Linked DNA regions of Homo sapiens: all the other regions are linked to region 2. The links come from fine-mapping of genetic effects on gene expression. A gene starts in region 2. Each other region holds a variant in brackets. All regions are shown on one strand. Distances are from middle to middle.

What was found. PIP is the estimated chance that this variant, and not a neighbour inherited with it, causes the effect. A credible set is the group of variants that fine-mapping cannot tell apart.
Region 1: its variant is the best candidate, but not a certain one, in a credible set for the expression of LINC02899 in thyroid (GTEx, PIP 0.53).
Region 3: its variant is the best candidate, but not a certain one, in a credible set for the expression of LINC02899 in monocytes after LPS (Fairfax 2014, PIP 0.87).

What each region holds. Positions count from the first base shown.
Region 1 is chr5:24,165,517-24,169,765 of GRCh38, forward strand. The region is part of intron 4 of LINC02899 (long intergenic non-protein coding RNA 2899); the gene reads left to right. Among named protein-coding and RNA genes, the nearest start is that of LINC02899, 220 kb to the left of the region's middle. The variant G/A (reference allele first, on the strand shown) is at 2,586.
Region 2 is chr5:23,949,286-23,953,534 of GRCh38, forward strand. It overlaps LINC02899 (long intergenic non-protein coding RNA 2899), which reads left to right and starts at 2,063. Exons shown (of 5, transcript NR_131245.1): 1 at 2,063-2,518. RefSeq lists an enhancer at 2,273-2,772.
Region 3 is chr5:24,832,088-24,836,336 of GRCh38, forward strand. It overlaps LINC02239 (long intergenic non-protein coding RNA 2239), which reads right to left. Exons shown (of 3, transcript NR_037896.1): 3 at 3,193-4,249. Among named protein-coding and RNA genes, the nearest start is that of LINC02239, 6.4 kb to the right of the region's middle. The variant TA/T (reference allele first, on the strand shown) is at 2,445.

The sequences.
Region 1 (4,249 bases), 220 kb after region 2:
AAGCAGCAGAATACCAACATAACTAGCTGGAGGAGCTGAAAGAATAATGGTATTTTCTGGGCCTATTTAGTGTGCGTTGTTGGATGAATAGAGTCATTCTCAGATTGCCAATAAATATTTTGAAACAGGAATAACCAAGATAGAAATATTAAAAAGAATTGCTGCATATGATCATTGTGCAGTGCACGTCACTGTTAAACTCACCCCTCTTTAAATTCTATTTCCATTTCATTCATAATATTATATTTTGTCAGTATTCCTTCTAACTTTTTTGCCATCTTAATTGACCTCATTTGTCCCCTTTACTCTGCTTTTGGTTCGTTTCTCCTTTCAATCTAATGTACTTGTAGAGTAATGTAATTTGTGTCCCACCTATATAGTGATAACCATTCATAAATGTTTAGATCCTTGAGAGAAGAAAATATTTTCTGGTATCAAAACTGAATTATATTAATTGCTCAATAACATTTGTTAAGTTGAACTAAGGGAATTTGAAATATAACTTGCAAACTTTTTTCTCTTCTTCAGACTCATACATTGAACTTTGTTGCATGCATATCTATAAATGCTTAACAGACATTTCACTCTCATTTATCCCAAAACATCTATCCCATTTTTCAATTCACACTCCAAACCCATTACGCTTGCATTTCCTCTCAGTTAAATTTAATGTCATCTACACAACCATCCTTCATCTCTTACTTACTTTATGCACCCGATCAAGTATCGATTCATGGAAATTCTCATTTCTGTATCTCAAATCCATCCCCCTTTCCACTCACTTCTACATCTGTCATAAGCCGGACCCTGGCAGAATTCACATGCAATTATCTCTAAATGGTCTCCCAGCCTCTAGTTCTAAATCATCTCAAAATTCTGCAGTAGAAGATTTTCAGACCTTTAGCAAATACCTTACTGTTTTATGCCTACTTAAATTTTTTTAATGGCTCACTGAAATAATTAGAGTAAGTGGAAAATGGTTTTATACAGTTCTCCATGATCTGTTTAGCAAAACACTGTGTTGCCCTGGGGTCAAATTGCCTGGGTTCTTAATCCATCCTCTATGTCATTAGCTTTGTGAAGTTATGTAAGTTATTTGACTATTCTGAGCCTTGATTTCCCCATCTGTAAAATTGATATGACAATAGAACCATCCCACAGAGTTGTTTTCAGGATTAATGAATGATCCATGTAAAGTGCTTAGAAGAATATGAATCACAATAAATCACTGAATAAGTGTTAGCTCTTCTAATTTTCCCTTTTTGATTAGGTAAACTTTTTGGCCTTTTTTTTTACTCATCCTTAAAAGCTCAAGTATTTGAAGAATCACTTTGACAAAGACTGAAATAATTTATATTTATCTGTTATAATGTATGTAACATTATATAAAAACAATCTCTTTAAGCATCTGTCTTCCCCATTGGAGAAGCAAGAAATATGTCCACCTAATCTCTATGTCTCTCACACCCAGAATAGTGCCTAGTAAATTGTAGCTTTCCATTTAATGCCTCCTGAACAGAACTAAAACGATTCTATATTTCTCAGCCCTCAACAGCTTGAAAATAAAAATAGACCGTTATAAGTGTCGCAAGCATTTTGAAGTTCTGTGCTCACTTACTCTTCAAAAGTTTTGGCCTCTTTCAAATCATTTTGAAATAGAGGATATTACCGTTTGCTCTGAAAATTGTTCATTATAGATACTTTATGGCATGTCTACTTTCCTCCATCCATCTGTACTATTATCTGGTGACATTTTCAGTCACCACAGTTACCCCTACAGCAGCTATGGTGCTGAAACCAGTATTGCTGCAGATAAATTATGGAATCCACATTGAGATTTTTTAATGTTTAATAGGGAGAGTACTAATCTTTTTCCCCCAAAAGTGGTAGTAGTTGATCTGCTTGCTTTTTCAAGGAAATAACACTGATAAGAGCTGACTGATATTTGTGCTTCCTTGACATACGGCTGTAATTAGCTGTTCACTGATATCAACAGAGCTGATGTATGTATCAAAATACTTATGTCCCATTTCTATTCAAGCCATTGCCAATGCTACTGGTGATACTTTGAACTCATGATGCCACAGAAATGCTAAGAAATTTTCTTTCACTGCTGTGTGTTTTTGTGTGTGTCTAATTGCAACTTGCGTGCCATTTAACCACATTATGAATTATTGGGGATGGAGCAGAAAGTAAAAGAGTGACACAAAGCAATGATGTGAAAATATTTATACCTTCTCCTAATATCTGGCCTTTGTTCTTTGAAAGAAACTGGAATATTTTACCATAAGTCTTCATAGTCTTTGTGCAAACACAGTATTTTTGGATCAACTCTCCTTTCACTCAGGTGCCTATTGTGTCTCAGGAAAATTAAGACTTTTTCTCAGAGGAGAGGCATTAATAAATAACAGATCATGGGTAAGCAAAGCTTGGATACAAAGCTCAATAATTAGCTACAAGTGGAATAATAGGAAATGAGTCATGTGCTTATTGTACAAATTCTAAGCACATACCATAGTCTTTAGCAGTTTGTGAAACACAAGAAAAGCAGAAAACAGTATCTATAATGAATCATCTTATAACAT[G/A]TTTGGGAAAAAAAGTATAAGGTATGTATTTCATAATTTAACATTGCTTATCATAAGTAATAAACTAGTGATGGAGGCAGTCAGTGGTACAGAGTTTGTGAAGGAGAACCTTTCTGAAGAGCATATAAAAGTGATAGAAGGTTGTGTCATATGTTGCGTTCATAAATCCAGGAAAAAGAAAAACATAGTGAGGTTATATTGGGCCTATTAATTAATGCTATTTTATTTTGAGCAGTGAAATACATTGTCAAAGTAGAATCCCAATTATTATCAATCAGAAACACCCATATTTGGACTGAAGGGAGAAAAATTATCTGTATTTTCAAATAAATATGCATATTTCTGGTTAACAATCATATCACCCTAAATATTGGAAGAAAAAGGTCAGAATAAGTTAAAATGCCAAAATTGTTTTTGGTATAACAATTTTCACACATATTCACATATATTTTAACAGGAAGTGTTTTTAATTCATTCTAACCCTATGAGATTTTCATTTGCAAATAAATTTGAGTCCTTTCAGCCTTGACTTAAATTGTGTATATAATAGCTCTCTGCAACGTAGAATAAAAGGCTTTTAAAAGGTTTAGAACATTTTGAGATAGAAAACAGTTCATGCAAAACATTGCGATGAGATAAATATAAAGAATGCGAAACCATATGGATTAATTTTCCTTTTAAATACAAATAGAATATGACACTATGAGAAAAGTCACTTGGAAGAAGAGAAGTGGATCACAGAGTATGAAAAAGTTTTTTGAAATATTGTTTATATATTACTTTTAATAACATAACTGAAATAAACTTACTTTAACATGTATTTTGTTTTAATGTATATTCATCACAATAAAATGATCATTTCTTTTTATGACATAAATCATGTTTCTTAAATAGTTTCAATTTATTCTGCACACTTTTTATTTATTTATTTATTTTTAATTTAATTTTATTTATTTATCTTTTTTTGAAGCGGAGTCTCGCTCTGTCACCCAGGCTGGAGTGCAGTGAGGTGATCTTGGCTCACTGCAAGCTCCGCCTCCCCAGTTCACTCCATTCTCCTGTCTCAGCCTCCTGAGTAGCTGGGACTACAGACACCCGCCACCACGCCCGGCTAATTTTTTGTATTTTTAGTAGAGAAGGGGTTTCACCGTGTTAGCCAGGATGGTCTCGATCTTCTGACCTCGTGATCCGCCCGCCTCAGCCTCCCAAAGTGCTGGGATTACAGGCGTAAGCCAACTTGCCCGGCCCAAACTTTTAAATATTGTCTACAGTTGGCATAATCCTCAGACCACAAGCTTTGCTCGTGTTCTCTCTATGTAAATAGAGAAGAAAAAGTGAAAATAAAATAGCTTGAACACATACAGGATTCAACATGCTAAGATGGTTCCTTGGTAATAAAGACATAGGCAAAGATCCTCCCACCTTGCTCTGCTGAATGATACTTTTGTTTTTAATACTTCCCCATCACTTCTTTAAAATATGTCTGATATGGTTTGGATCTGTGTCCTCACCCGCATCGCAGTTGTTATTCTCAATGTTGGAAGTGGGGCCTGGTGGGAGGAGATTGGATTATGCGGGCAGTTTCTCAGGAATGCTTTAGCACCATCTTCCTTGGTACTGTCGTTGTGATAGTGAGTTCTCATGAGATCTGGTTGTTTAAAAGT
Region 2 (4,249 bases):
ACTTGATCTAAAGATGATCACTACTCTTTAGTGTCTTTTCTTCCTCCTCTTCCTCCTCCTCTCCTTCCCCTTCCCCTTCTTTCTCTTCCTCTTCTTTCCTCCTTCCCTTCCTCCCCCTTCCCCTCCCACTCCTCCTCCTTCTTCTTCTTCTTCTTGATAGGGGCCGGAAGCAGTGGCTCATACCTGTAATCCCAGCACTTTGGGAGGCTGAGGCGGGTGGATCACCTGAGGTCAGGAGTTACAGAGCAGCCTGGTAAACATGGTGAAAGCCCATCTCTACTAAAAATACAAAATCAGCCAAGCACGGTGGCACACATGCAATCCCAGCTACTCAGGAGGCTGAGGCAGGAGAATCACTTGAATTCCGGAGGCAGAGATTGCAGTGAGCCAAGATGGCGCCAGCACACTCTAGCCTGGGCAACAGAGTGAGTGAAATGAATGAGACTACATGTCAAAAACAAAACAAAACAAAAAGAAAGGCAGGAGTAATGACTTCCAAGTTTTCTACACATCAAAGCTGTAACTGGAAGACTCTCACTATAGTTTTTTAATTTCTCTTTTTAAATTGTTTTTAAAAACTTTGACAAAAAAGACATAACTTTAGATTTGTTTTTTTTTTTTTGGAAATTTTGTTACCAGATGGTTTATTGATTGATACTAATCCTAAATCCAAGAGTTGTCATTAAGTATACAAATAGTATTTTAATTATGAGTATCAATCCAAAATTTAACTGTTTATGTAAATTTTAAGTGTAATAATAGTTGTGTGTGTACATGCATGTACACATTAATACTAAGAAACAGACCCAGCGAAGATAATATGTATGATACAAAATGAGATACTTCTCAACAAACATTCACTCCTTTCTGGCTCCATAAATTTGGGATTTGCTCTCTGGCTTACGGTGGTCAAAAGAGAGTAAAGTGAGATATAAGCAAAGGCTATACCTATGATTCAGGAAGTTGGCCTGTCTTTTTGCTGTTTTGGATCTGCCATCAAAAGACAGTGATTTGAGGAGCTGAATAGTAACCAATGATTTAAAGAGAGTTAGGAAATATATGGAGGAGATTTGCATGTAATTTGCAGCTTAACATTAAGTCAAGACAATCATATATGAGTCTAGTAGAGCAATAGTCACCCTTCAAACATGGAAATATGGGCATAAGCGTTAGAAGCCAGAGTGAATTAGTGTTGATTACACAGCAAGAAATGGCTTACTAAAAATGTAATGTTACTTACAATATGTGGAATTACAACCAAATGTATTAATCAACATAACTACATCACATGGGTAAAAAAAGAAGTTATATTGTACAATTTAAGATGTAAATACTCCTTTTTTTCTCTAATATATGAAGTTAAGTCTTACATAACTCTCAATGACTGAAGATAAATACAATTGTGTAATTAAAGAAATTTGCTAAGATAATTATCTCTCCAATTTATAAATGAAATATATTATTTAACTATTTAGATATAAATTATAAGTGATAAACGAGTGAGAAGAACTTTTAGAAGGGGTCAAAATTAATTAAGCAAGATTTTTTTTTTTTGCTAAATGCCCATCTCACAGGTTTTTAAAAAAATTTTTTTTTGCTAAATTATAACTAAGCAAGTTTCAATGTTTTTTAAGATGTATAGGTCATGAATATAATTTTACTAATGTCATATGTGGTGTGAGATAAAATATTTGAGGCATTTTTGAATTGCATCCAGATTCTACACTTTGTTTCATTAACATTTTCAAATAAATCTTAAAGTATTATAAATATTTAATATTTAAAAATTTTGGAACTCATCAAAGATATTGAGAGGTGACAACGTGCTGGCAGTCCTCACAGCCCTCGCTCGCTCTCGGCGCCTCCTCTGCCTGGGTTCTCACTTTGGCGGCACTTGAGGAGCCGTTCAGCCCACCGCTGCACTGTGGCAGCCCCTTTCTGGGCTGGCCAAGGCCGGAGCCGGCTCCCTCAGCTTGCAGGGAGGTGTGGAGGGAAAGGCGACAGCGGGAACCGGGGCTGCGCGCGGCGCTTCCGGCGCTGCGCGCGGCGCTTGCGGCCAGCTGGAGTTCCGGGTGGGCGTGGGCTTGGCGGGCCCTGCACTCGGAGCAGCCGGCTGGCCCCGCCGCGGCCGAGCAATGAGGAGTACACCCTCCGGGCCAGCGACTGTGGAGGGTGTACTGGGTACCCCAGCAGTGACAGCCCACCGGCGCTGCGTTCGATTTCTCGCTGGGCCTTAGCTGCCTTCCCTCAGGGCAGGGCTCGGGACCTGCAGCCCGCCATGCCTGAGCCTCCCACCCCCTCCGTTGGCTCCTGTGCTGCCCGAGCCTCCCGGATGAGCGCCGCCCCCTGCTCCAGGGCGCCCAGTCCCATCGACCACCCAAGGGCTGAGGAGTGCGGGCGCGCGGCGCGGGACTGGCAGGCAGCTCCACCTGCAGCCCCGGTGAGGGATCCACTGGGTGAAGCCAGCTGGGCTCCTGAGTCTGGTGAGGACATGGAGAACCTTTATGTCCAGCTCAAGGTTTGTAAATACACCAATCAGCACCTTGTATCTAGCTCAGGGTTTGTGAATGCACCAATCGACACTCTGTATCTAGCTACTCTGGTGGGGTCTTGGAGAACCTTAATGTCTAGCTCAGGGATTGTAAATACACCAATTGGCACTCTGTATCTAGCTCAAGGTGTGTAAACACACCAGTCTGCACCCTGTGTCTAGCTCAGAGTTTGTGAATGCACCAATGGACACTCTGTATCTAGCTAATCTAGTGGGGACGTGGAGAACCTTTGTGTCTAGCTCAGGGATTGTAAACGCACCAGTCAGCGCCCTGTCAAAACAGACCACTGGGCTCTACCAATCAGCAGGATGTGGGTGGGGCCAGATAAGAGAATAAAAGCAGGCTGCCTGAACCAGCAGTGGCAACCCGCTCGGGACCCCTTCCACACTGTGGAGGCTTTGTTCTTTCGCTCTTTGCAATAAATCTTGCTACTGCTCACTCTTTGGGTCCACACTGCTTTTATGAGTTGTAACACTCACCGCGAAGGTCTGCAGCTTCACTCCTGAGCTAGCGAGACCACGAACCCACCAGAAGGAAGAAACTGAACACATCCGAACATCAGAAGGAACAAACTCCAGACGCGCGCCACCTTAAGAGCTGTAACACTCACCGCGAGGGTCCGAGGCTTCATTCTTGAAGTCAGTGAGACCAAGAACCCACCAATTCTGGACACAATAGTATCTCATTGTGGTTTTGATTTTCATTTCTGTAATGATCTGTGATACTGAGCTTGATACAGGTTTTTTGACCACATATATGTTTTCTTTTGAAAAGTGATTGTTCATGGCTATTGCTCACTTTTTAATGGGGTTGTTTTTCCCCTGTAAATTTGTTTAAGTTCCTTATAGATGCTGGATATTAGATCTTTGTCAGATACATTGTTTGCAAATATTTTCTCCCATTTTGTAGGTTGTCAGTTTACTCTGTTGATAGTTTCTTTTGCTGTGCAGAAGCTCTTTAGTATAATTAGATCTCATTAATCAATTTTTACTTTTGTTGCTGTTGTTTTTGGTGTCTTTATTATGAAATACTTGTCAGTTTCTATGTCTATAATGGTATTGCCTTGTTGTCTTCCAGGGTTTTTATAGTTTTGAGTTTTGCATTTAAGTCTTCAATCTATCTTGAGTTGATTTAAATATATATGTATGTATGTGTATATATATATAATGAAAGAGAGGGGTCCAGTTTCCATTTTTTGCATATGGCTAGCCAGTTACCCATTTATTGAATAGTCCTTTCCCTATTGCTTATTTTTGTCATTTTTATCAAGGATGAGATGGTTGTAGGTGTGCAGACTTATTTCTGGGGTCTGTATTGTGTTCCATTGGTCTACGTGTCTGTTTTTATACCAGTACCACACTGTTTTGATTTCTGTAGCGCTATAGTGCAGTTTCAAGTTGGTTAGATATGCCTCTATCTTTGTCCTTTTTGCTTAGGATTGCCTTAGGCTTTGTTTATTTGTTTGTTTCTAATGAATTTTAAAAGAGTTTTCTTTTCTAGTTCTGTGAAGAATGACATTGGTAGTTTGACAGAAATAGCAAATCTGTAAATTTCTTTGGACAGTAAGGCCATTTTAATTATATCGATTCTCTCTATTCTCAAGCATAGCATGTTTTTCCACTTGTTTATGTCATCTCTGATTTTTCGAGCAGTGCTTTGTAATTCTCATTGTAGAGATCTTCCGCATCCCTGGTTAG
Region 3 (4,249 bases), 880 kb after region 2:
AGAAGGGGCATCTAACTGGGGAGAATCAGATGGCACAAATATTTCAGGCATAGGGCTGTTCTTGGATGTGTCAGCAGGAGCAGGTATACGTCAGAAGAGACACACCCATGCAGTGACGTTTTGAACATTTGGCAATGTGTATTAGCACAGCTCTTCCCTTTAGCAAGATTTGTTTTGCGGTTCCAGATAGGTCATTTCCAGGCCTCATTCCGCCAAGGTAGTAAGCTAGATACGAGATATGTTTTCAGGGTGTAATTTGGCAATATGTTGTTTTTTTTTTTTCTGGCTATTTTATCACTGCTAATATCAGTAGAGTTTCCAACCCACATGTTGGCCCTGCTTCAGCCTTTACCCCACCAAACCATGAAATGAAAGTCAGTAGTTTATTTCAAAATCTGGGCCGTATTTGACAACATTGCCTTTTTTTTTTTTTTTTTTTTTTTTTTTTTTTTTGAGACAGTCTCACTCTTTTGCCCAGGCTGGAGTACAGTGGCATGATCTCAGCTCACTGCAGCCTCTGCCTCCCAGGGTCAAGCAATTCTCCTGCCTCAGCCTCCTTTAGTAGAGATGGGGTTTCACCATGCTGGGCAGACTGGTCTCGAACTCCTAACCTCAGTTGATCTACCCACTTCTGCCTTTCAAAGTGCTGGGATCACAGGCAGGAGCCACCATGGCCAGCCAACACTGCCCTTTGATTAGTAATATAAAAACTTGTAGGTTGATCTTAACAGCCATTTTATTTCATTTATCTTATACTGCAAATAGCAGAGAAATTTCTATAATAAAATATGTTTCTGGATTTCCTTGTAAATAATATTTTCTTATTTTTAGTTCCTAAGTGAGTTGAAGGTAAGAGAATTGCTTTTAAAGTGAATTTTAAAACCACTGTCTTTTCCAGAAACCCAAGCAAGCTTGTCAAATTGTGCCTGTGACAGAAGAAAGCAGCTACTTCTCTACTGACAGTCGTGATTTTCCAAATTGTTCAAACCTCCCACCATTTTCATGGGGAAAGTCTGAAATATCTGGACCAATGAATAATCAGAAATCATTAAGGAATAAGTAAGTGGGTCAGCATGATACCTTAGGTGAATGAAAATGTAGATAGAATAATAAAATTTGAAGAGGGATGACATGATAAAAATGCCACATCTTCTTTTATGATGTATCAAGATTCAGATATATTTTATATGTATACTTAAATACATAGTAAGTAATGGAACTTGGAATTTGGGGTATTTTTATGCTTCTACCATTTTATTTTTAGCCACACTGAGCATACAATGTAATATACTTTATAAAATATTCCCTAAATGTAAAAAAAAAACTCTAAAACACTGTAAGACACTACTGATTCCACAGATCAGATCATGTTACATGTGATTATAGATAAATATGATGCATCTCATATATTATTCCTTGTAAAACTTCTGACACAGATGTTATTATTGCCCTGGACAAAAACAATTTAATTAAATTTCAATATAAATTCTTGTAAAATGAACATAATACCATTTTTTTTAAGTCTAAAACAATAGAAGCATTTCTAAAAACAGAGAGACTATTTTCATCAGGTTTCACTGGTGATTAACACTGAACATGTTGCGGGAAGCATGTCTGTTTCAAATCCCACCCTCGTGTATAGAATTTGACACCAGATGGTTTCAAACTAACAAGGAATTAACAATTTGTGTGTTGTTAATTGTTCCATTATAAAAGTACTCTTGTGAAGTAAATAAGAAATACATTTCCATGGCATACAGCTGAAGATATAATTGTAAAGTAAAACAAAATGTGAACAAAAGTTTTGGTAATTGCTAAAATGTGTCAGAAAAGGCACAGTATCATTTTTTTAGAAAAACAATATTGCTTTTTTCCCTATTCTTTTTTCTTTTGATTATTTGAAATTAAATTCAGCACCACCATAATTTAAATATGTACAAAATATTAATGAATGGAATACACTCTGTGATGTGTAATTGTATGTGTCAACTTGCCTCTGAGTTAAGGAATAGCCAGATAGCTGGAAAAATTGTATTTTTGGTATGTCTTTGAATGAGTTTCCAGGAAAGATTATCATTTGAATCAACAGACTGAGTAAAAGTCTTGCTCCTCAATGTGGGTGGGCATCCCCCATTTTGTCATGTCCCTGAATAGAACAAAAAGGCAGAGGAAGGAAAAATTCACTCTCTCTCTTCTTGAGCTAGAACAATCATCTTCTTCTGTCCTGGAACATTGGTGCTCCTGGTTCTCAGACCTTCAGTATCAAACTCAATTATACCACAGGTTTTCCTAGTTCTCCAGCCTGCAGATGGCAAACTGTGGAACTTCTCGGCATCCATAATTGCATGAGCCAATTCCCATAATAAATTTCCATCTATCTGTCTACCTACCTACCTACCTACCAACCATCTAAGCATCTATTTTCTATCATCTATCTATCTATC[TA/T]ATCTATCTATCTATCTATCTATCTATCTATCTATCTATCTATCTATCTATCTATCTGGCATCTATCTATCTAATCATATGTCTTATTGGTTCTGTTTCTCTGGAGCACATTGACTAATGCACACTATAAATCTATCCAGTTGTATGTTTCAAGTGTTACCAATTTTACTTTTTGACATGTAGCTATCCTGTGTTGTTCCTATTTGACATACTGTGAACAGTACACATTGTATTGACAAGTGCATGATGGGGACAAAAGTCTGAATTCAAGGATTTTTAAAATATGTTGAGTACTTTTATCATAATTGCTATATATAAGAAATCTCATGTATTTATGGGAATTAGAACTCATAATGAAAGGCTAGGAAAGAAATTCTCAAAGTTTTTGTTTCAGGACACCGCTGCACCCTTAAAATATTGAAGACCCCAAATAATTTTGTTTTATGGCTTATATCTTTTAATATTTACTACACTTGAAATTAAAACTGAGATTTAAAAGTTTATTGAATAATTTAAAAATAGCAAGATTAACCCATTACATGTTAACCTAAATAACGTATCTTTCTAAAAATACATTTCTAAACTAAAAAATAATTGGTGAGAAGAGTAGCATTTTTCTACATTATTGCAGATTTAAAATCTATCTGGCTTATTAGGAAATAGTTGAATTCTCAAAACTCTTTTGCATTCAACCTATTATAATATGTTGTTTTGGTTAAAGTATAAAAAATCAGGCTTACACAGAAATATAGTAGGAAAAGGAATAATTATTTTAATAATGTCAAAGATAAAATTAAATTTGAGACAAAATTAGTAAATGCTACTTATTCCTGATCATGCAGCCTTAAAGGAAACTATCTGTGGCCATGCTCTTTTCAGCAGGATTCAAAGGTATTTGAAGGAAGTTTTGGTTTTATAGAGGAAAAGGAGTAAGTCCTGAGATAGATAGACTCTGATTAGCAAGTTTTCTTAACACTCTTACGGGATTTTTGAAAGTGGTGGAGACTTTCTAATTGTTCTTCAGGTACATTTTTGTGTCCTTGTGTCGTAGGACTTTTTCCTTAGTTCAGCTAAGAGCCAGTTTCTTGTCACATGGCCATGAGATATTAGACTCGCAGACACTTTGAAGGTTGAAAAAAATGGAATTTTTGAGCAAAAATGGACAGAAAGGGAAACAGGACTCTCTGCAAAGCTAGGGTCCTGCAAGTGTGCGTCCTGCCTCACAGATTGAATTCCAGGTTCCACCCAGGAAGAGGAGGGGCCAAGCTCCTCCCCACTGCAAATGAACAAACTTCCCGAGGCTCCATCCCAGTGTGCACTCATCCCAGGGACAGGTGGGTTGGGGGTTCTCTGGTGACCCCTTTATACTCAGCTCTCTCACTTGGTTGGCTGCAATTGGGTAGATAAGCGATTTGGGGAGATTTCAAAAGAGGAAAAACTTGCTTAATCTTCAGTGACAAACTCTCTGTAGCTAGCCATTTTGGGGAACAAGAGGAGGCTGATGGAATTACTTTTCTCACTCAAACTCATGCTGTTTTTATGGCAGGCAATCTCTCAATAATATATTTAGGTAATATTGCATATTCTTCTTTTATACTATACCAAAACTCCACAAAGTGTAGTCTATTAAAAGTTAGTTGCAATGTGTTAACTGAAACCGTATCAGTAAACTTTTTATCATCTGGTACATTAAAATCCATTGGTGTATTTTGAATTTGACTGGATCTTTTCCCAGCCTATGATTTTATAACCCTGTATATTTTTCAATTGGAAAATATTGTTTTATTGATTTATGCAAATCTCT